2 separate regions of the Homo sapiens genome follow, and region 1 is linked to region 2. The links come from fine-mapping of genetic effects on gene expression. A gene starts in region 2. The other region holds a variant in brackets. All regions are shown on one strand. Distances are between the middles of the regions. Region 1 overlaps RBM15-AS1 (RBM15 antisense RNA 1). Region 2 holds the start of RBM15-AS1 (RBM15 antisense RNA 1).

Region 1 (13,143 bases), 54 kb after region 2:
ATCAGTTACTGCTTCTCTGCTTTACCCTGGAGTGTTTCCTTTACAGCTCAATAAATATTTCATCAGTGGTGACTCAGTATAATCACCATCCCCCATGCCATCCCAGGCAGCTTACAACCTAGAGACTGTCACTGCTCTTTGACATATTCTGTCACTTTGCCTCCCCAGGTCACCATCCTCTCACTCGCCTCTGACTTTTCGCACAGGAGAGAGCTGGTCGAATAGTACAATTCCCCGATGTGAATGGGGAGAAGCTGGGGAAAGGAAGAATGATCTTCAGGCAGTAAGGGTAAGAGGAGCCACTTTTCCCATCTGAGTAAATACCGAGAGAAGATGAATGTGAGGCTCTTGGAGATTAGCTGTCTGCTGGGAGAGAAACACCTTCATTGATTAAATACAAAATCTGTTCTGGAAAACATGGTCGTTGGAATAGTTCTTAGCAGATCCTTGCACCGGGCTTGTAAAAGCTAAACAGCCTTCTGCTCCCAACCTATCCCTCCCACTTGGGGGATTTGGAGAAAGGGCTAGGGAGAGAGAGAGGAAGAAGTGGTGCCCAGGATGCCACAGGGAGAGGAGAATGAGCTAAAGGTAGAGAGTGTGAGGATATGGTCAGAGGGTTATGCCCCTGACAGTCTTGGGCTGGCAAATGCAAGGACCTTTGGGGGACAGTGCAGGGGCTGACGAGGCAGGCTTGAGGATGCTCTGGTCACGTGGATACTAGGGCCAGAGTCCTCTTGGCTCAGGCACTGTGTAAGGAAAGAAATGTAACTTCCTTATTGCCTGTCCACTCTCCCTCAAAACAAACACTCTTTTCTGTTTAAATAGTAGGAGACCACCCTCTCCGCAGGAGATAGCTAAAAAAGAAAAAATAAATATATAATAGGAGACAATATCTTGAGAAGGTGGAAATGAGACCCTCCCCCGCCCCAGGGGAAAGTGATAGGAAAGCTCAGCTAGAAAGCTCCCGAGAGAAAGTGATAGAAAACAGCCTGGACCAGGGCCAGAGAGGAGCAGGAGGAGAGAAGATCCATCAGTGTTCGTGTCCTAGTGGGAAAGGAGGAATGTACTGACAGCTGGGATGTGATGGCAGACTGGTCTAAGGGTAGGGCCTGCGGGGAGAAGCTGCTAGCAGAGGGCATATGGGGTGAAGGGAATAGGGGGAGCAGAGCTTCAGGTAAAGGAGGAAGAGGTACTGTTTCTCCATTTCCCTCTGGGCTTTTGCTATTTAATTGAGTAATTCCTGGCCCCAGGGCAACTCTGAGAATTTCTCTGGCTTGCAGTAGAGTTGTCACTTTATTACCTTCAGATTCTGTTTGGAGTTTTTCCTTCTGAATTTCCTCAAATGGCCCAGCTTTGCCTTGCCATTTTGGTGGGTTTTATTTTCTCTGCCATCTAATGTCCCAGGGGTCTCCAGACAAGCACACCTTTCTGAAAGCCTCTGGGGGGTGCCTTTCTCTGAAAGCCTGGGCCAGGCCTGGGAAGACTCACCCACAGGCTGAGATTTGAGACCTTGTCCCCCACCCCTATGACCTTCCTAAAACACAAAACTCCCAGGCAGTGTCTGAAATGCCTCGACATGAAGGGAGCTAATAGTAATTTCTCAGAAGAACATAGGCTCTTCTTTAGTCCTTGGATTTAAAGCGCAGATTCCAAGGAGGATAAATTGTCTTGCCAGGCTGGGTAAATCTGTTGTCAGGCAGCTTTTCTCCACTAAAAAAGAGATTAATCTGATTACACCTATAGTCACCTGGAACTGTTCCATCTCTGAAATCTTTTTTTTTTTTTTTTTACAACTTCTTGTCCAACAGACACCTCTAAAATCTTAATTTTAAATATACCACCCTCAGGATATAAATCTGTTCATTCAGCTTTTCCCCAAACCTGTCATTCTTCCTCAAGACCTTCAGCCCTAGACCTCTCTGAGTCTACCAGTTCCTCCTGATGTCCCTTCCTTTCCTGCCTGGGTCCCTACTCAATGGTTGACCATTTGACCTAACCTTCACCAGCCCCTTGTATTCTGACTCTGTGTTAGTTTTCTGGGGCTGCCATAACAAAGTACCACAAGTTCAAGGGCTTAAAACAATGGGAAATGTATTCTCTCATAGTTCCAGAAGCCAAAAGTCCAAAATGAAGGTGTTGGTGGGGCCATGCTCTCTGTGACGGCACTGGGGGAGAACTCTTCCTTACCTGTTCCCGCTGCTGGTGGCTCCTGGCCTTCCTTGGCTTGTGGCAGCACAGCTCCAATCTCTGCTTCCTTCTTCACATGGCCTTCCTCCCTGTGTGTCTGTGTCCTTTCCTGTCTCTTATAATGACACCTATCATTGGATTTAGGACCCACCCTAATTCAGTATGATCTCATTTCACATCTGCAAAGACCCTGTTTCCAAATGAGGTCACATTTCAAGGTTCTGGGTAGACATGAATTTTGGGGAGACACTATTCAACCCGCTGTAGCCCCATTTTTCCTTCTATTGCGTTCCAAATTCCCCAAGCTTAGCTCAGGCCCACAGTTGGGCATCTATCTTCCTTTTGGCCTTGGGGCAGCTGAGCTCTGTTCTTGGCTCCTCCTGCTCTTTGCTGGTTTCAGTGCTTCTCAGCAAGAGTGCCTCCTACAGCCTCTTCTTTCTTTTCCCTCGGGAAGTAGCACCCCAGAGATGGCTGAGGTCTGGGGCAGGAACTCCTCCAAATTCAAACCTTAAGGCCAGGCACAGTGGCTCATACCTATAATCCCAGCAATTTGGGAGGCCAAGGCAGGAGGATCCCTTGAGCCCAGGAGTTTGAGACCAGCCTGAGTGACATGGTGAAACCCCATCTCTACAAAGAATACAAAAATTAGCTGGGCATGGTGGCTAATTTTTGTATTCTTGGCGCACCTGTGGTCCCAGCTAGTCAGGAGGCTGAGGTGTGAGGATTGCTTGAGCCAGGAGGCAGAGGTTGCAGTGAGCCAAGATCGTGTCACTGCACCCCAGCCTGGGCAACAGAGTGAGACCCTGTCTCAAAAAAAAAAAAAAAAATCCCATCTTAAGACCCCTACAGATGTACCATTAGTTTCACCTTTTCCCCCCTTTCCCATCCCATTGAAGGCCATGTGTTTCTGCTCTTCTTGGAGGCTATTCAGGCCCTCACAGCACTTGCCTGGTATACAGCAAATTATCCTGACTGTGTTTATCTGCTTCCATATGCACCCTACTCTTATGACTCTCATACCACTCTTCTGCTTAAAACCATTCATTCATTCACTCTTTCATTCATTCATGTGTTTGTTGCATATATATTGAGTGTCTGCTATGTTAGTACTCTGGCCTCATCTCCCACAACCAATGAGATCATTGACTTTTCAGAACTTACAGCATAGAAAGTTTTCCATGGCGGTCCTATAGGATTTCCATTCTAAAGTTTACATTCTTTAGGGTGGTGGATAACCCCCTTAACCTGGCCCTAACCTACCTCTGACTTCTGTCTCCCATTGCTCCCATCTCTAGCCCAGCCAAACTATTACTCAAGCCAGGCTCTTACACTTCTGTGCTGTGGTGCTTTCAGTCTAGTTGAAATGTCTCTGCCTTTTGCCTGCCTGGAAAATCCCTAGTTGTCTTCAATATTTAGTTCCAATGTTACCACCTCCTAGGAGCCTTCCTTGACAATCCTGTCCTGGACTCTGTCTTTTTTGCCACATAAATCTCTTATTGTGTGAATCATGCTGCCTTGCAATGATTTGTTTACATGTCTGTCTCTCTTTTCCCTTGAAGTTAAGGACAATAATTTATTCATTTTATATTCTCTATATCTGGCATAATGTAGATGTTTAATAAAGTTTAAGTGCTTAATAAAAGAAGTGGTGGAAGACCTCAATTCATCTGAGAGCAGAATCTGCCTAGAAGAGTTGGAACTTCTCCACCCTGCTCCATCCTCTGTACCTGACCTGTGTGTTCTGGGCTCCCCACGGCCAAGGAGCATCAATGGGCTAACAGAGTGTAATGGGCTGAATTGTGTTGGCCCCAAACTCAAATTTTGAAGTCCCACCCCTCCCTCATTCTATGGCCTTGTTTGGAAATGGGGTTGTTGCGATGTAATTAGTTGAGATAAGGTCTTATTATATTTGGGTAGGCCCCTACTCCAGTATGATTGGTGTCCTTATAAAAAGGAGAAATTGGACACAGACACCCTACCAAGAAGAACACTATGTGAAGATGAAGGCAGAGATCAGGGTGATGCCTCTACTTGCTGAGAAACTCCTACAGTTGCCAGCCCACCACTAGAAGCAAAGGAAGAAGCACAGCCCTCAGAAGGAACCAACCCTGCTAATGCCTTGGTCTTGGACTTGCAGCCTCCAGAACAGCGAGCCAATACATTCCTGTGGTTTAAGCCACTGACTGTGGCACTTTATTACAGCAGCACTAGGAAACTCATACAGGAGGTGACAGTGCTCAGATGAAACAGGACCTTCCACTTCCATGGCAAAGCCCTCATCTTTCGTGCCCATGCGCCATTTGATCTGCACACAAATCACTGAGCAGGTTCCTCAGCTATTATTATCCCCACCTTTCAGATGGAAAGAACTGAAGCTCAAGAGGGCCAAAGAAATTTGGCTATGGCTTTCTTTATTTTCTTTTTCATGGGCAGAAGTAGATTTCAGTTTTGGTCCCTTTCCACTACCATATCAGGTTGCCTTAAGGCAACTTTGAAAAGTCTAAAATATTAAACAGTTTGTGAAGTTATTATCATTATTCATAAAGGACAGCGCGAGGTTAGTCTTACCCTAGAGAGCCCCATTGTTGGCCCAAAGCATCTTGCCAGGAGCCCTATAGGACCATGTTTTCAAGGCCCCCAAAGAGCACAGGGCTATTGGTCCATCCCAGCTCCTGGAATGGCTCATTGTACCCACCCTGCCTCCAGCTGAGGAGCCAGGGAGAAGCACTGACCCCTGATCTTGCTATCCCTTCCATTACACTCTTGCCAGAGGAGCTTTTTTCAGGGGTGGCCGCTTCCCTCTCCTCAAGAGAATTCTGGGGACCAACCAGCTCAGGCCTGCTGTTGGCCTCAGGGTCACATCTCACCCAGACACCCCCACCATTCCCTCAGGTCTAGGGATGCTGCTCCCCTACCATGGGATCTTCTTTTTATTTTTATTTATTTATATTTTCCTTATGCCTAGTGTAAAGGGATTTCTTTTCTTTTTTGTTTTTGTTTTTTTTTTGAGATGGAGTCTTGCTCTGTCACCCAGGCTGGAGTGCAGTGCAGTGGCGCTATCTCGGCTCACTGCAACCTCCACCTCCTGGGTTCAAGTGATTCTCCTGCCTCAGCCTCCCAGGAGCTGGGATTACAGGTGTGCCACCACATTTGGCTAATTTTTTTACTTTTAGTAGAGATGGGGTTTCACCATGTTGGCCAGGCTAGTCTCGATCTCCTGACCTCAGGTGATCCACCCGCCTCAGCCTCCCAGAATGCTGGGATTACAGGCATGAGCCACCGCTCCCAGCCAGGATCTTCTTTTTAAAGCTATCACCACCCACTCTCATTCCCCAGGACTCTCCTCACCCCTCCGGCTGCAAAGGCAGCTGGTGTCCCTACTGGCTCCTTCCTTTCTGCCCCTAAAGACAGGCACACAGGTGATTTTCCTTTTAAGTGTTTTTCTGTGGATTACTGCGGGGAAATTGACAGGGGCTACAGGGGCTGATAAAAGGAATAATCTTTGATATTCTTTCAGTTGGGTCGCTGATTTTCTTGCTGGGCTGACAAGAGCAATCTTCCCTACTTGGAATCTTGGTTTTATTCCTTAGCATGGGCCTTATCAAACCTACTTTTTAATGAAGGGAGAATGAAGAAGCCATTGAAGCAGACCTCTAGCTGCCAGTCAGGTCTGCTCTGAAGGCTGCCTATCTGCGGGGACATGTGACTTCTGGGGCTTTCCAGATTAAGTAATGCTCACCCCACATGTCTGAAATTCTCCAAACACTATTCCGGCCCTGCTGTGATTCTTAGAGCAGAGGTTCTTTGCCTTTTTAGTGTAATGGATCCCTCAGCAACTTGGTGAGCCCTTCTCAGAATAAAGTTTCTAATGCAGAAAGTAAAACACATGGGATAATAAGGGAAGTCATGTCCTTTGAAATCCTTATCAAAAATATTTTTCAAATTTTGTGATATAATAAGTTTGGTTGCTATTATATAGCATAATATAACTTCATATCTAATAGCTATTGTTATTTTGAAGTAGTGGTGAATATATATGCTATTTTGAGATGTCTAAAACAACTGTAATGTGTTACAAAAATATCCATGATTTCTATCGGTGACAAAGTCAAAAGTATCGTGAATACGTCTGTGATTTGCAAGCTACATCCAAAATGGAAGGAAATCCTAATGTTTGGTTAGTGATTGATAAAAATAAAGATGTGGGCGGGCGCGGTGGCTCACGCCTGTAATCCCAGCACTTTGGGAAGCCAAGGCGGGCAGATCATGAAGTCAGGAGATCAAGATCATCCTGGCCAGCATGGTGAAACGCCGTCTCTACTAAAAATAAAAAAATTAGCTGGGCATGGTGGCGTGTGTCTGTAGTCCCAGCTACTTGGGAGGCTGAGACAGGAGAATCACTTGAACCCAGGAGGCGGAGGTTGCTGTGAGCCGAGATCACACCGCTGCACTCCTTGGTTTCCTTGGGATAAAATGGGGATATTAATGATGATTTCACAGGGATACAAAGATCAAGGGAAATAGTCAAGTGTTATATCTTGTTCATGTATCAAAATGGGCTGTGACCTCCTTACAGTGACTATCATCAGTCAGAAGCCTCAAGGGATGCTTTCCCAGACAGAAATAGTCTTGTGAATATGCTTAATTTGTTTATTCACAAAACATTTATCAAGCACCTACTGTGTGACAAGCATGGTACTTGCAGTGAGAGAATAAATTTGCAGAGCGAGACTCCGTCTCAAAAATAAAAATAAAAATAAAAAAATAAAGACGTAATACTATTTTTCCCCCATTGAGCTCATGGGCCCAGATTAAGAGCTCCTGCCCTGGATCTGTGCATCTCAAACTTCCATGTGCTTCTGAATCATCTGGCCTCTGTTAACATGCAGATTCTGATTCAGGAGGTCTGGAGTAGGCTCAAG[G/C]CTCTGCATTCTTGACAAACTCTAGGGATGAGTTTGTCAAGCTGGCTCCTGAGATGGGCACAGTCTGGAACGTATGGTACTGGGTAATAGTCACCACCTGGAACCATGATGGGAATCTGAGAGCAAGGGCATCAGCTGCTGGGGCCCGAGGGTGGGTTGGGGCCTTAAAGTGATTCCGTGAACTTCACAAGCTTCGTGGCAGTCTTGTGGTGACAAGGCCATTCCAGCATATCTCCTGATGAGGATGCAGAGGACACTCTAACCTGGAATACATTCTCTCCACAAAGCTGAAGGGAGCCTGCAATCTTTTTAATGCTCCAATTAGAGCCTGAACACAAGACCTTTCCTTTTGTCTGGTGAAATCAGGCTGGGCCAGTTACATGAGACTTGACTAAAGGCTTAGGAATAACAGAGAAAAAATAAATGCAGGCAATAGAATATGACCATAGAACATGACTTCAAGACACCCTGCCCACTCAGCAATAGGCTTTAAAGACAATCTTTTGTCCCTTAGACAGAAGGGCTGGACCTTTAGACGTGAAGCCCAATGAGAGAGGCAGCAGTCATTGTCAGAACATCCCTGAGGGGAGTATGAATCCCTGGGTTGGACGCAGTGAGGCCCAGGTCCCCTTATATGCTGGTTTTGGAGGTCTGGGATCTTATTAAGAGAGATGGCAGGTCTCCCTGGCCCACTGCCCCTTTCCCACTTCCTGATTGCTGCTTACCTCAAAGTGGTGGATGCTGCCTTTGCACTTAACTTTCCAGGAGGCCACACCTACGTGGGGCATTCCCTCTGCTTCCTGAATTCTAGTCTGAGAATCCTCTTTGTCTCCATTATGGGCTCTTTCATCACTATTCACCCTATTGAAGGAGATACTCCTTTTACTCACCCAAACATTGTAGCCTTAAACTCACAGTCATGTTTGAATACAACACATTACATTTAATAACCATGCAAGAAAATCACACACACAGTGCAAGAGGGTCTAATCTGTACCAATCTTGATTTTGCACTTGTAATCTATCCCTCTCTGGAGTTTAGTTGAGAGCATGATCTTTGCAGCCACTCAGATCGGGGTTCTAATTATACCATATACAAGCTGTCTGACCTTAAAGAATTTGATTAGCTCAGTGTGCTAATCTGCAAAATGGGAGTAGTAAAAGTGTCTACCTCATTTGACTATTGTGTGACTTCAATAAAATGATACCTGCAATCAGTTTCCTCTCTGGCACACAATAAGTTCCCAATATTAGTTGTCAATGTACTACCCTCACCTCTCACGGTAAAGTAATTATTTCAGCATTTAAGAAAATTTATTCTCTCACTGCAAGTACCATGCTTGTCACACAGTAGGTGCTTGATAAATGTTTTGTGAATAAACAAATTAAGCATATTCACAAGACTATTTCTGTCTGGGAAAGCATCCCTTGAGGCTTCTGACTGATGACAGTCACTGTAAGGAGGTCACAGCCCATTTTGATACATGATCAAGATATAACACTTGACTATTTCCCTTGATCTTTGTATCCCTGTGAAATCATCATTAATATCCCCATTTTATCCCAAGGAAACCAAGGCTCATGGAGGCTTAGTGTTGTGCCCAAAGTAACACAGTTAGCAAGTGGTTCCATTTAGTGATGCCTCAGCAGAAGCCCAATGTGCCCTGAAATAGCATATGAAGTCTGTCTGAGATCCGGGGGCATGACTTATGATTCATAAAATAACTGTGTAGCTAGGGAGCTACAGAAAGAGATTAACAGAACCTGGGACTTCAGTCATTTTCAAGAAAGTACAACAGCTAAGCATTAACAATTCATAGAAAAGACCCACTCTAAATGATGCTTTGTAAATGCATAATGAAGAGACTGGGAAGTACCCAAGTCCAAAAAAAGTCGTCAGGACTAAACGTAGCTAAAGAGAGCTGGGGCCCAGTCAGTAGTCCCCAGTCTGACTGAAGGAAGCCTAGGGCAACTGAAGATCTGGGTCTGCTAGGCGTCCAGAAAAGGGGCAGTCAAATAATACAACCAGTCAGTGTGTCTCCACTTCCACTGAGAGAGACAAGTGGCTCTGGACCAGACATCGTTAATCACAATTTCCTATCCCCTGACCTAATGTCTCTTTGTTCTGAACTCAGTAAGCAATCTTCTGATTATTAGTTTTCTGGGTAAGCTTGGTACCAAAAAGGGAATACTTGGTAGGAATACTCACCATTTTACATTTACCGTGGGCTCCTTAGTGCTATGGTTTGAGTTTGACCCCACCAAAATGCATGTTGAAACTGATCCCCAATGTGGCGGTGTTGGGAAGTGGGGCCCGGTGACAGGTGGGGACAGATCTCTCATAAATGGTTGGTGGTAGTCAGCGCTTGCTCTCTGTGAGACTGAACTAGTTCTCACAGGAATGCTCCCTTGAGAGTGGGCTTTAATAGAACCAGGACACTCCTTGAAATTTACCTCTTTGCACATGTCCACTTCCCCTTTGATCTTCCACCATGTCTTAATGCAGCAAGAAAGCCCACACAGAAGCCAAGCAGATGCCAGCACCATGCTTCTTGAACCTCCCAGCCTGCAGAACCATGAGCTAAATATACCTCTTTTCTTTATAAATTACTCAGCCTTGGGTATTCTGCTATAGCAACACAAAATGAACCAAGACACTCAGTCTCTTAGAAGTTTAGTGACTGTGAGTCAATCTCTCTTAAGTCATGTCTCCCAGTTTTTTACTGGACTCAGGTTCATCAGTCTCTTAGGGATTTAGTGACTGTAAGTCAATGGTTCTTGAACCTGAACAACTACGAGCATGCTTATAAATCCAATGTCTGGAACTGCAAAGCCAAGCAAGGGCCATCCCCTGGTCCACAGCAACCCTTCGAAGAAGGTGCTTCTACCCTGGGAGACACCTCCCCACTTACCCACAGATGCCTGTAATGAGATCCCTCCATCCTCCAGCCTCTGGCCACATGCCTGCAGAGCAGAGTGGTGTTCACAGGTCACTTCAGTGGGAGCACAGTGCTTCCTCAGCAGAACTGAGAGCTGACAGGGGTGCAAAAATAACAGGCTTATTGGAAGAGAGCAACATTACAGACACTCAAGCACCCCTAAGGTAGAGGAAAAACAGAAAAGCTCTCATCTTTTTTCCTACCCATGGTCAGACATGTAAGAGCCTCGCTCCTCCCTATAGGAAGAGAAAGAAGCAGAGAGATGACAGGTGGAGTTAGATTTTCAAGGACACAGAAGGATTTGTAAACACTGGAGGCTGTCTCTCACTGAGGGAGAAGTCATCACAGGTGGGGCAGAGTCCTCCAGCTCCACTCAAGGGATGACATTTTCCTTTCATCTCTTTCTCCCCTCTGGGATCCAGGGAGTGATTGAGATAATTTACCATTTAATGTGGGCAGATGGCTTAATTAAGCTAAAGCGGAAGGCATTAACAGTGGCACTGAGTATGAGAATGACTCGGGGGTGGGACCCTGGGAGCCACCTGGCAGATGTGTCCTCCTCTGCCCTGTCTCCTGGACTGGTCCCTAGGCACTAGGGTGCAGGGTGCTCAGTGGGTAATTTGCCTGCTTGGGAATTTAGGCTCCTGGTTCCCCTGCAGCCTCTGCCAGCGCAGCCTGGGAAGGCCCCGGCTCACACATTGGGAAATGCCTCTGGTTTTGTGGCCAGTCTTCAGGTCTAGGGACAGCAGCAGCAGCAGAAGCCAGCATTGCTGGACTCTCCCTGAGGCTGGCTGGGTTCTGAGTGATCAGTCATCCATGAGATTGAAGCCAAGTCCCTGCTCTCAGAGAGATCATACTTAGGTGGGGATACCAAATTCCTGGACCTCTGCAGGCTGGGCCGGAGAGATTCTAGCCCTTCTCCTAAAATTTATAGATGAGCAAACTGAGGCCTAGACAAGGGAAGCAACTGGCTCACCATGAGCCACAGAATAGGCATGAGAGCTCAGCTCCCCAGCTCCTGAGCTGTAAGTGCAGTATGTGTGTGTGTGTGTGTGTGTGTGTGTGTGTGTGTTTTTACATATGTGGGGAGTCAGATAAAGAAAGCACAGCTCCTCTAATTCCCCTTCCCCCTTCCCGCCCCCATTGCTATCTTCCTCAGTCCATGGGTTCCTGTCAAGTCCTTTCCCATCTCTGTATTTATGTCTGAAGAGAGGAGTGGGAGCCCCCAAATAGGTAGTAAGATTTCAGATTTCACTCATTCCAAGCCTGGAGCTCCACAGCCTTTGGAAACAGGTGTAGGGTGGCCCCACATCATTTCCTGGGTGAATTCTGCTTCCACAGCTCATTAACCATATCCTGTCTGCAGCTGGCAAGTCTGGGAGGAGAAACCCACAGCAAACCACCCTCCTCTCAGTCCCCCTTCCCCGCTCCAAGCACCTTAAAATGATTGCTTTGGCCCAGAGCCAGGGAAGTGATGAAGTTTTCCAAATTATGAGGCAAGGTTTCTTGTCTCATTAGCTTCTTTACCTTGCTATCCAGAAGCCCCCGCACCACCACCACCACCACCACAGGGAGCCTGAACCTAATACCCCCAGGAGGATCTGAGTGACTTGGGGCAGGATGCTCACGGTCCTGTCCTCAGGGATGCAACTGTTTGCTTCGAGGAGGGCTCCTGGAGAAACTAAGCTGGGTAAAGATCACTGGGCAGCTCTGGGTAGGGAATGTGACACAGCAATTTGGTCTACGTGGGGCCAGGAATTTCCACTGGGAATAGCAAGGCAGCAGACCAGGGGATGGTGTGGGAGGTGGCCAAGGATGGTAGATAGAATTGCTACATAAAATACAAGACACCCAATTAAATATGAATTTCAGATAAACAACAAATAATTTTTTAGTATTTGTCCCAAATATGCCATACTTATACTGAAAAAAAATTTGTTGTTATTTGAATTGCAAAGTTACCTGGCCATCCTGTAATTTGCTAAATCTGGCCACCCAAATGTTGGGGTAGATAACTAGGCGATGGTGTAGCAGGAGATTAGGGGATTGTGGGCAGCGGACCAGGCTAGACTCACCTGGGCCTCTGAGCTGGGCCTCTGTCCTCAGGGGTTTCGCAGAGTTGTAGACTGAGGACCTGTTTCCTATCCAGGCCAATTTCACGGGACTTGTTTCCGCCTTCCCTAAGGTCTCAGGGAAGACACCTTCCCTTAGCTTCTCCCATTGCCACTCCCTCCCCCAGAGTCTTCAACCTTGGCAGGGAGACAGAGCACAATCTCCTCCCACCCTGTGGCCACCAAGCACAAGCACGCAGAATCTCTCTGTTTGAAGGGCTTTACAAAGACCAGCTTTGGAGGCACACTGGCCTAGGTATGAACCTGAACTTAGTCGCCCTCTAGCTGGCCATCATAGGCATGTAATTAACCTCTCTGTGCCTCGATTTCTGCGAAATGGTTAAAAAGAGAACCAACCTATTGTGATCATCTAGTGGGTCAATGTTTACAAAGCTGATGGAACACAGCACTCAATAAATGATAGCCTAAACATTCCAGCCGGGTGCGGTGGCTCACACCTGTAATCCCAGCACTTTGGGAGGCCAAGGCATGTGGATCACAAGAGATTGAGACCAGCCTGGCCAACATGATGAAACCCCGTCTCTACTAAAAATACAAAAAATTAACTGAGCGTAGTGGCGGGTGCCTACTCGGGGAGGCTGAGGCAGGAGAATCGCTTGAATCCGGGAGGTGGAGGTTGCAGCGAGCTGAGATCGTGCTACTGCACTCCAGCCCGGGCAACAGAGTGAGACTCCATCTCAAAAAAAAAAAAAAAAAAAAAAAATTCCTAAAGCCCACAGGGAACCAGGAAGGGGATAATAAAAAAAAAATTAACATGGAGAAGTGACACAGGTACCAGATTCTTTCAAAGCTCTCTCTCATAGCCATTATCACTCTTTCAGGAATAATGGAAAACATCAGTCCTGCATTCCCCTTTTACATCTGAGAGCAGAGCTCACTATATCATCTTTGCTCTTTCAAATCTCTCCTTTCCCAGGATCACTCTATCCAGCATTAGTCCAGATGGAAAGCTATGAATTGGAG
Region 2 (9,749 bases):
TACCTTCAAAAGGTGACAAATGCTTATAACCAGCCAGGCGATGGACATTTTAAGATGTAATCCTCAAAAGAAAAACTCTATCCACTCTCAGTTGAGAGTCAAAGTACACCAGAAATTTAAAACTTTGTGTGAAAAATTATTTATAGGAATCCCAACAAAATACTTAACCAAAAAGTTAAGCAGAACTATTGGCTAGGTATTGCTTGCTTAATTTTCCATAAAATTTGAAGCTGTGATCTAAAAGTCTTATCTTCACGTTTTTACCAATAATACTTAATAGTCATTAAATGATATCCTGAAGTTTTCTTTCCATTCATTTTAACTGAGTTCCAGAAAAATCAACTACATTAAAATAATTAAAGAAGAAAGATAGAAAAAAATTGGTTGTTACAAAGAACATTCAACGTTGGGATTATTAAATCCTGGCTAATGAGAAGTAGAACCGGTTTTAGACTTTTGCTTTCATTTGAATTCTTAAGGTTTAACTAGATACTTTATGGATATTATGAACCTGCACAAAAGAATGGGCAGTACAAATATGAGGTTCATGTGGACTATGGCACTCTGTAGGTAATGACCAACTAAACATAATTAGTTTTTTATAATACATACATTTAGAAATGGTATCAAGCCATTGTTTCAAAAACACTGAAGCACAAATTGCCCAGACCTAACAAAAGCGGCAATGTCAGGTAAAGATTCAAACAAACATGGAGCAAAAACACAGTACTCTTCTGTACGCTGTCACACTAACAAAAAACAAAAAACAAACAAAAAAAAAGAAAGTAAAAGAAAAGAAATAAAACACACATTTTGGATGACAGTAAAATTAGATGTCATGGACTTCACTCTCCAAAAGAGCAAAATCATTTGTCCAACTATCTCAACAAAAGATATTCAAAAATTAATGGTTAGTGAGTTTATTTAAACTGGAAAAATGTAGCTGGCCACAAATTATACTATGAGCCCACGTATGTAGACTCCACACTTGCATTAGTTTCTGAACAGGTGTCTACTCCAAACCAACCACAGCTTTTTGAAAGCAAGAAGCATCAAAAGTCTTCATTATAGGATTTCAGGTATTTTCCCAAGAGGCACAAGGACCTTCATGCTCATAGCCTAGAACCTTCCTTCTCTCAAAATGGCTAGTTTTTCCAGTTTAAAAACAAACAAACAAAAACCCCCACAAAACCTGCAAACTTAAAAAATTATAGATGCATAGTGAAAACCAAGAGGGATGACACAGCAGTGATGACACTTTTGTGCTGACATGCATTAGACACCTGTCATAATGGAAAATAAAAATTACATGACATTTCCCTGGGTTATTATTGGTGCTATTTCAAAACTACCAGCTTTGATAACAGAAAGAAAACAGTTGGGTTCTGCCAGGCTTCAAGTTAAGTCACTTTCATAGAACAGAAACATGACCATGATCCAGAAGGTCCAAAAGTCTCTAATCATAATTAAATATCAAGGGCCTTAGCTGAAGTCTTCAGCACTTAAATCAAGGGAGAAAAATATACTTACTAATGACCTGACAAATTAGGGGTGGGACAGAGGGGATAGATTAAAAAAAAAAAATCCATTACTGTTAAGCAGCAAAAGTCCTTGTTGAGAACCAGAGGTTGATATCATCTCACCTTTGAAAAAAAAAAAACTGTGAGGCTAAGTTAAATGATCCTGTATTAATTCCGGGTGTCTGGGAAAATAAAACAATTAAAAAAGGTTTTCCTACACTGACATTTCAATTCCGTAGCTGGACAGCAGTGAGAATATTGAACATAAAATTTCCAAGATGTTCAAAACATTTTCAATAATGTAATGTCACTACTGTTTAAATATGAAAATAAAAAGACAAGCAAAATTTTAAAAGAGCATGTCAAAGGCATTTTATGATGACTTTTTAAGAAATTCTGCAATCCAAATATGGCTGATTTAAATGCCCACTGAAATAAAAGATGACTATGAGCCTGCAGACAACTCTTCTTTCTATTATTGAAACCAGAAATTTGAATTGATACAAAAACAAAAACTCATCTTTGATGAAGAACACTTAGTTTCGAAATATGCACGATTAGAACTGTACCTGCTACACCTCTCTGAAAAAGTCAGTAAAAACACCACCACACACCAATAACTGACCAAAGAATTCTGATTTTAAAAGCACCTACTCACTTCTTGCATACTAGTGTAAGCATAAGACATATATGGTTTGTAACATAGTCCTTAATTTTTACTGAACAGTTACTGCTACAAACCAAAAGTGCATATATGGGATACAGAACTCTAGAACAAATGATTTAAAAAATGCATGTTAAAGCAAACTCTCTGGGAATAAACTGTATCTTAAGAAATACTCAAATACCTGATTAAAATAATTACATTGCTATACAATTTACCAGCATATCTTTGAGATCCCTGATCAAATTTCAGTCACACACATTTCTGGTAAAAGAATTATTTACCTACACACCAATCGAGTCATTTTTAGGTGGCTATTACTCTCTTTATATGGTCAGTGGACTCCTTTCTCCAAATTCTGACTTTTCAAAATTTTGGTTTTGTAACTCTGAGGATTTTTTAAGCTCAAGATTAAAAAAAAAACAACTGAATAGAGAAAAAAAATTACTCATAAGGGTGGGAACTCCTAATTAAAGCAAATCTGTCTGCCTGCCTGCTACCTTTAGGGCATCCCTTTCACTTAAAATAATAGCTAAACAAACAAAAAAATAGCTAAACTGTCCTGATTTCTATTTTAAAGACGTTTATAAAAATATAAAAAAGAAAATGCTACAACTAACAACTAAAAAGAAAATTGCATCTGATGCTGTATCCCATTACACATCACAAAACAGGAACCATGTCAAAGTAGTAAATACAAGTTACACATGGACTTTAGGACGCACCACGGACAATGATCATGACCAGGTAATCTTCTTCAGATTTGGCCAGTGCCTTGGCAGGGGAATCCAGGAACTGCTGGGAGAACTCACAAGGTGGGAAGGCATGAAGGACCCCGGTGTTTTCCTTGTCTTTGTTGCCCCCCACAGGGAGGCTGATCACCCCGGCTGCCTGCTTTTGCTTTAAATAGGACACAAGGTTCCTAAGTGGCCTCTGAGTAGAAGTGGCAGTGTCTGATGCAGCTGAGGAAGAGGAGGACCGGCTGTCAGAACTTCCAGGCACAGCCAAAAGAATGGCATAACCATTGGGCCCTGCTACTTTGATGCGTCGAGTTACTTCATCCAACTTGGGCTGGTCCAAACGGAGACGCTGAGTGATCTTGAGCTGGGCCACTTTGCCTCCAGTTGAACCCTCCACAAGAAGACTACTAGCCACTTGGAGGTCACCCTGCAACAGATGCATGTTGGAAGGAAAGTTGCTGTTCTTCAGTAGAAGCATGCCCTGCCAGGCCAAACAGAGTTTGGGAGAGGCTGATGCCACAGGGGCTGTCCCCCCATCCTGTTTCTGGGACGGGGACTTCAGCTTGGAGGAAGCAGTGCTGGTGCTAGGTGCACTCCCATCAGAGCGGTCTTCTTTTTTCAGAGGGCTTTTTCCCTCAGTGGGAGCAGTTGTCCGGTGCTTCCTATCTCGTTCAGCTGATGCAGAGTTTTTACGGTCTCGCTTGTCACCCTGGCTCTTCTCCAAACTACCTCGTCTGTCTCTGATTGGAGAGGGCCTTTCCAAGAGAAGACGGGAAGATCGATCATTGTCGCTGTTGTAACGATCCCGGCTACTGCTCAATTCTGGACTGCGGTCAGGAGAAGGAGCGCAGTGACGTTTTCGTGGGCGGTCACTCTCAGGAGACCTATCCAGATGACGTCCTCCACTCTCCTCAGGCAGCCTTCGCTTCCTAGGCTGGTCTCTGCTGCTGGGCAGATCTCGATCACCTCTGTCCCGGTCCAAGGACCAACCATCCCGCCTGCGATCTAGGCTATCCAGTGGCTCGTAAGCAGGCACAGAAGTAGCTGCAGTCCGAGTGCTGCGTTCTCGGACTGGGGGTGGGGGTGGCACCCAATCAGAGTCAGGATAAAGGTCCCTATCACGATCTCTGTATAGTAAGGGTGGTGTCCTATCCCGAGCACCCCTCAAAGGGTCTGGTGCCCGATGTCCAAAAGCATCTGTCACCAGCTCATAATGAGTCAAGGGCAGAGGCTGCAGATACTGCTGCTGGTAACGATGTTCGGTGTCGGCAAAGTCTACTCTAAGGCGTCGATCTGGGCCACCAAGTGGGAAGCCCCGCATATGGGTCCAGGCAGCATGCGCTGCATCCAGGCTTTCATACTGGATATATGCCCAACTATCACCTTTTCGGTAGTCTATGGTGCGTATGGTGCCAAATCGATCAAATTCTCGTGCCAGGGCAGCAAGAGGAACCCAAGGTCCCAGGCCTCCCACCCAGAGGCGGGTGGTGGGTGTAGCTTTACCATAACCAATTTTGATAGGATTCCGAATTATAATTTTGCCAGACATTGCTAATTTGGCCCGGTGAGACATATCTAAGTTCTCAAATTTGAGAAAGCCGTAAGTACTAGTCTGGCCGCGAGAAGGCCTCTTGATATCTACTTCTGTGATGACTCCAAAGCGATCAAACGCCCTTCTTAAATCACTCTCCGTTACAGTGATGTCTAGGTTGCCCAAGAAGAGCGTCCGGTTAGCTCGCTGATCATCCTCGGGTGAAATCTCATCCACTTCTCTGAAAGGAGCAGCACCTGCTCCAGCTCCCACCCTTGGCTCAAGACTGTATGCAGGGCGCACTCTCTCATAGAACGGGTAGTCTCTTTCTCTCTCCAGGTCTCGAGGCAATGGTGGCGGAGGTGGAGGGGGCAGGCGGCCAAGAGCCAACTGCTGCAGCCGGTAGTCTCTGTATCCCAAAGCAGCGCCACCAGGGGAAAGTGATCTCTGGCCTCCACCACCTCCAGGGGGGTGCCGGTGACCACCTACAGAGGCCCCGACCACACTGGCTGATGGAGGATAAGTATCTTTGTCTAAAGGGGAGCGGCTGCGGCGCCGGCTCACATACACAGCTTCTATCTTCAGAGGCCGGTCATAGAGCACCAGGCGGCCTCTGGCATGCTTGGCCGCCCGCGCGTCCTCTGGCCGCCGGAAGTTCACAAAGGCTACCCGCTCATCCCCGCTGCCAGAACCCGACAGATGACTGATTTTCACACTTACATCACCGAAGCGTTTGAACTCATGAAACAGGCCGTCCTCCACCGCTTCGTCACTAAGCTGGGACCCCAACTCGCTTATCTTCAGAGTCTTGTATTCCGCGCCGTCCCCGCCGCCGGGAGCTGAGGAGGCGGCCCCAGAGGAACGTGACTCCCCGCCTCCACCCCGGGAGCTGCTGCGCGATTCGCCCCCGCCCGAAGAATTTTTGGTGCTCGGGGAGCTATAACTATGCAAGCGGCTACTGGAGCTGCCCCCACCGGTATCATACTCGCGGCTGCCACCTCGACTGCTGGACTTGTCCAGGTGGAGACTCCGCCGCGACCCACCGCCGCTATCGGTCTTTCCGCTGCTGCTCCCATTGCTGCCACCAGAGCCCCCTAACTTCTTGCTCCGCTCACCGCGGGAAGTCGAGTCCTCACCACCACGGGAGCGTTTGGCCTTCACTGGCGAGCGCTCTTTTCCCTTCATTGTTGCGGGTCGTCGGAGGTCGTCTCCGCGGAGCTGAGTAACCCGCCGCCCCGCGCTCGTTTCACACAGCGGAACCGCACGCCGCCATCTTGGACTCCGCCGCGGCACAGGGTCCCGCCCCGCAGTCCTCATTGGCCAATTGCTCTCTCTTCTACAGTCTCATTGGGAAAATTATTTGTCTATCTTTACATCTCCCCGCGCTCCAGGAAGGCGCCCGCCCAACCACTGTTATTGGGTTCCCAACCCCCTAGTCGGAGTACCTCATTGGTTACATTTGTTGTCTATCTTAACGGTTCCTCGCGCCAGACTGTAGCTCCGCCCCTCGCACTCTGCGGTCACGTGACCCAAAGTGTTGAGGTGTTGATTGGACAAAAAGTCTGCCCTGTAACGGTACTTCTTGCTCAGTGACAGCAGCAACCCACCTCCTTATCCCTTTCATTGGCTTATAAACCCGTCCTTTAAACCACTATTTGGGAGGTCGGGCCATCAGTTTCGGCGTTTTTTCCAGAGAGGCAGGCTCACAGCGATATCGCGAGAGACGGTAAGCTCCCTCTTTCGACCCCCTTTTTCCAACTCCTCCGGCGGCTAAAAGAAGTTTAAATCTGATTGGATGTCGGCAAGGAAGTTGATAGGCTGAAATAACTGTCCATCACTCGCTTAAAGGGGTAGGCCTGTATAACGGAGGAGGCTGACTGAAGGTGAAAGACTAGAACACGTGCTTGCTGTGCGACGTCACTTAGATGTCGCGAGAGGGTGACTGTGCGCCAGCCCCGCCTCCCCGCGTTTTCGGCGTTCTCCCCACAAACATTTGTTAAGTTCCGTGGGGTGTTTGGCTGTGCTTCGGCCCTTGGAGTTCGAAACTTCTGAGCTCCCCGCCGTCGTACCTGTGCCGGCCAAGGGGCGGGGCAGGCTTTCCGGCTGTCGGGGCCCTCCAGTCCCTCAGGAAGCCGTCCTGGGACGCCTAGCGGACACCATTTTACGTCGCTGTGGTAGCTGAGTGAACAGCCGGGGGGAGCCCCGCCCCCCGCGCGCGGGAGAGCGCCGCCCGCGGTCACCTGGGCCCGCGGGGCAGAGAGTTCACGGTTCCTGCAGCCTCGGGTCATGCTGACGCCCCCGGGCGGTGCTAACACGTAACACGCGGGACCTCGAGAGCTAAGAAGCAGGGCGACTAAGACGCAGCCCTCGCCCAGGAGCCCGTCTCTCCCGCGAGCTACCCGTTCCCGCCCAAGTACTCCGGGTAACCGAGGGGAGTGACCGTCGCTCCCCGCCTCGTGGCCCGCGGGCGGAGCCGGAACTGTCGGGACACCGCGGACGTGTCTTTGGGCGGCATGTTTTATGTTGCGAATCTGTGTGGATTTTTAAATTCTGTATTCCCCTAAAATAGCAGTGTTTTTAATATGTAATGCTTCTACCCTGAAAATCACCAAGCGAAATTTAGGCTCCATGCAGATATGTCACTTGTTTTTCCCCCTGTGGCTTCTTGTATCCCTTGGCACTCTTATTGTGTGTTAAAAGCCAGCAGCACAGGCACCTTGCGGCCGCTCCAGATCCACCTCGTTTGGCTCCTTCAGTCGTTCGCCGTACAACTTTCCTTTCCATAGTGCGTTACTGTGGCGGACAGAGCACCTGTGAGAGGTGCAGGCGATGCCGAGCTTAGGGGGGTATGGCCTGTGCCCCAGCACTCGCCGGTTGCTGGAGGGACGCAGCGCTGAGGTCACCACAGCCTTTAGACTGTCTGCAGCCCTCCCAGGTTCGCGCCGGGGCGGAGGTTATGAGGATTCTTGTATTGATCCGGTCCTCAACCCTATTTCCCAAGATCCAATCTATAGTAGAGGGTGTGAGGTGTTTTTAAACGTGACATTTTTCAAGGTAACAATAATATCCCAAAAGCTGAAACCTAAACTTAAAAACTGTGTTAAGATTAGGGACTGTAACCTAAATTTAGCCTTGGCTGAGCCATCCTTCTTTTTGTAAATAATCGTGAGGAATGTGAAGCTGGAGGCCTTCTATCTCTTGATTAGATCAAAGAAACTCGAAGGAAGAAGCTCAATTGTAAAGCATAAAAATCCACAATATTGTAATGTGTAGACATCTTCATTGTATTAAAATGGGAAATAAAACTTCATAAGGCATAAAATAATGTGTATAATACGCTACCATTTGTGGTTTTAAAAATGTTTGTATTTATGAGTATGTACATTTAAAAAATATATTTTCATGGAAACTTTCTTGACAAATACACGGGAAATTGTTACTAGGATTGCCCTGAAGAGGTGTGCGAGGGTCTGGAGTAGGAGGGAGACTTTACTTTTCTTTGTAGAAATCTTTTGTTTCTACAAAGGGCGCTATTACTCCTTCAGTTTAAAAAATAACATTTTTAACTTTCCTTAAACTATTTTTATGGAAAAAGTTTAAAATATATAAAAGAATACTTTAAAGAACTCCCATGTGTACCCAACACCCTATTTCAGCAATTATCAAATCATGTCAATCTTGTTTCATCTGCATCACTCTTCCCACTCTTCTTTTCTCCATTATTTTCTTCCAGACTTACCTGATACATTTCCTGCCCCAGTTGTGGAATCAGCCATTTCTCCAGAGAGCTCTGGTTCCTTTTAGTGGGAGATGGTATTTAAAGATAAAAATCTGGATGCTGGAGGATAAAAAACACATGAACACATTATTTGTAAAAGCATGAAATAAAAAGTTATAGCTGGGTTTAAATCTGTTTCAAGGTTATATTAATAGACCACAAATGGAAATTGAAGTTAAGCCATTATCTGATTACTCAATGTAATAACCAATCGAGATAATAAACCAGGCACCAGAGTGACTTTTTAACCTAAATAGACCTGCTAAGGTGACTCACTGATCAAAGAAAAAGATAATGACCAAATCAGTAGTTTTCCAAACTTCAAGATAGGGGTTGAGGGAGCACAAGATTTGAGAGAAATAATTCAGGGAGATAAACAGACACCCAGTCTGTGTGAACATGCACCAGAGGCATGCCAAGTTTAGTGGCTTGCCACTTCAAATACCAGGGAGCTTGATGGAAGCTACTGCCTGCAGCTGGCTATAGTACAAAGGCTTGCCTAGGGGGACTGGAAATCTGCCTGGAGCCAAGAGTGCTAGTAAGTTTTATGGTTAGATGGAAAAGGCCTAGATTCCATTAAGAGTAACAGCCAAAATATTGCCTGTGATGTGTATGTGTGTGTGTGTGTGTGTGTGTTTCCACAACAAATGAATAAGTTGGATCCATGCTGTAGTTAAAATAAGTGATTGTTTTCATTTCCTTTGTGTTATTGCCCCCAAAATTACCCCCTCCCCTGGCTTCCAGCAGATACTACCTGAAAATCCTTTGTGTTCTTTAAAGCAGTGGTCCCCAAACTTTTTGGCATCAGGGACCAGCTTCATGGAACTGTTCCACCTCAGATCATCAGGCATTAGATTATCATAAGGAACACACAACCCACATCCCTCACATACTCCATTCACAATAGGGTTAGCCCTCCTCTGAGAATCAAATGCCTCTGCTGATCTGTCAGGAGGCAGAGCTCAGGCAGTAATGCTCCCTCCCCTGCCCCTCACCTGCTGTGCAGCCAGGTCCTAACAGGCAACTGACCATTACTGGTCCACAGCCTGGGGTCTGGGAACCCCTGCTTTAAAGCATAAAGCTGCTTAGTGAGTTTTTTATTTTTTTTGTTTTTTCTTTTTTGTTGTTTTGTTTTGTTTTTGTTTTTGTTTTAGAGACAGGGACTTGCTCTGTCACCCAGGCTGGAGTGTAATGGTGCAGTCATAACTCACTGCAACCTCAAATTCCTGGGCTCAAGCAATCCTCCCGATTCAGCCTTCCATGTAGCTAGGACCACAGGCACACACCACCACACTAAGCTAATTTTTTAATTTTTTGTAGCAATGGGGTCTAGCCATGTTGCCCAGGCTTATCTCAAACTACTGGCCTCAAGTGATCCTCCTATCTCAGCCTCCCCAAAGCACTGGGATTACAGATGTGAGCCACTGCACCCAACCAAGTTAGGTTTTATCCTCTGTTTACATGTGTGCTTTAGAGAGGGCACATGTGTAAAAGTGGATAAAAGTGACCCATGGTT

What was found.
Region 1: its variant is fine-mapped to the expression of RBM15-AS1 in whole blood (TOPMed, PIP above 0.99).

The regions. Positions count from the first base shown.
Region 1 is chr1:110,279,533-110,292,675 of GRCh38, reverse strand. It overlaps RBM15-AS1 (RBM15 antisense RNA 1), which reads left to right. Exons shown (of 4, transcript NR_036595.1): 3 at 169-289; 4 at 4,105-6,301. It also overlaps a transcript of KCNC4 not described here. Among named protein-coding and RNA genes, the nearest start is that of RBM15-AS1, 53 kb to the left of the region's middle. RefSeq lists an enhancer at 5,817-5,866. The variant G/C (reference allele first, on the strand shown) is at 7,110.
Region 2 is chr1:110,335,429-110,345,177 of GRCh38, reverse strand. It overlaps RBM15-AS1 (RBM15 antisense RNA 1), which reads left to right and starts at 6,007. Exons shown (of 4, transcript NR_036595.1): 1 at 6,007-6,181. It overlaps RBM15 (RNA binding motif protein 15), which reads right to left and starts at 5,801. Exons shown (of 3, transcript NM_022768.5): 1 at 2,910-5,801. The coding sequence starts at 5,772. It overlaps LOC124904276, which reads right to left. Exons shown (of 1, transcript XM_047437983.1): 1 at 6,175-9,749. The coding sequence starts at 6,743. The coding sequence ends at 6,237. RefSeq lists enhancers at 3,597-3,891, 3,407-3,972, 4,813-5,262, 4,634-5,372, 5,343-5,462 and 2 more and a silencer at 6,563-6,832.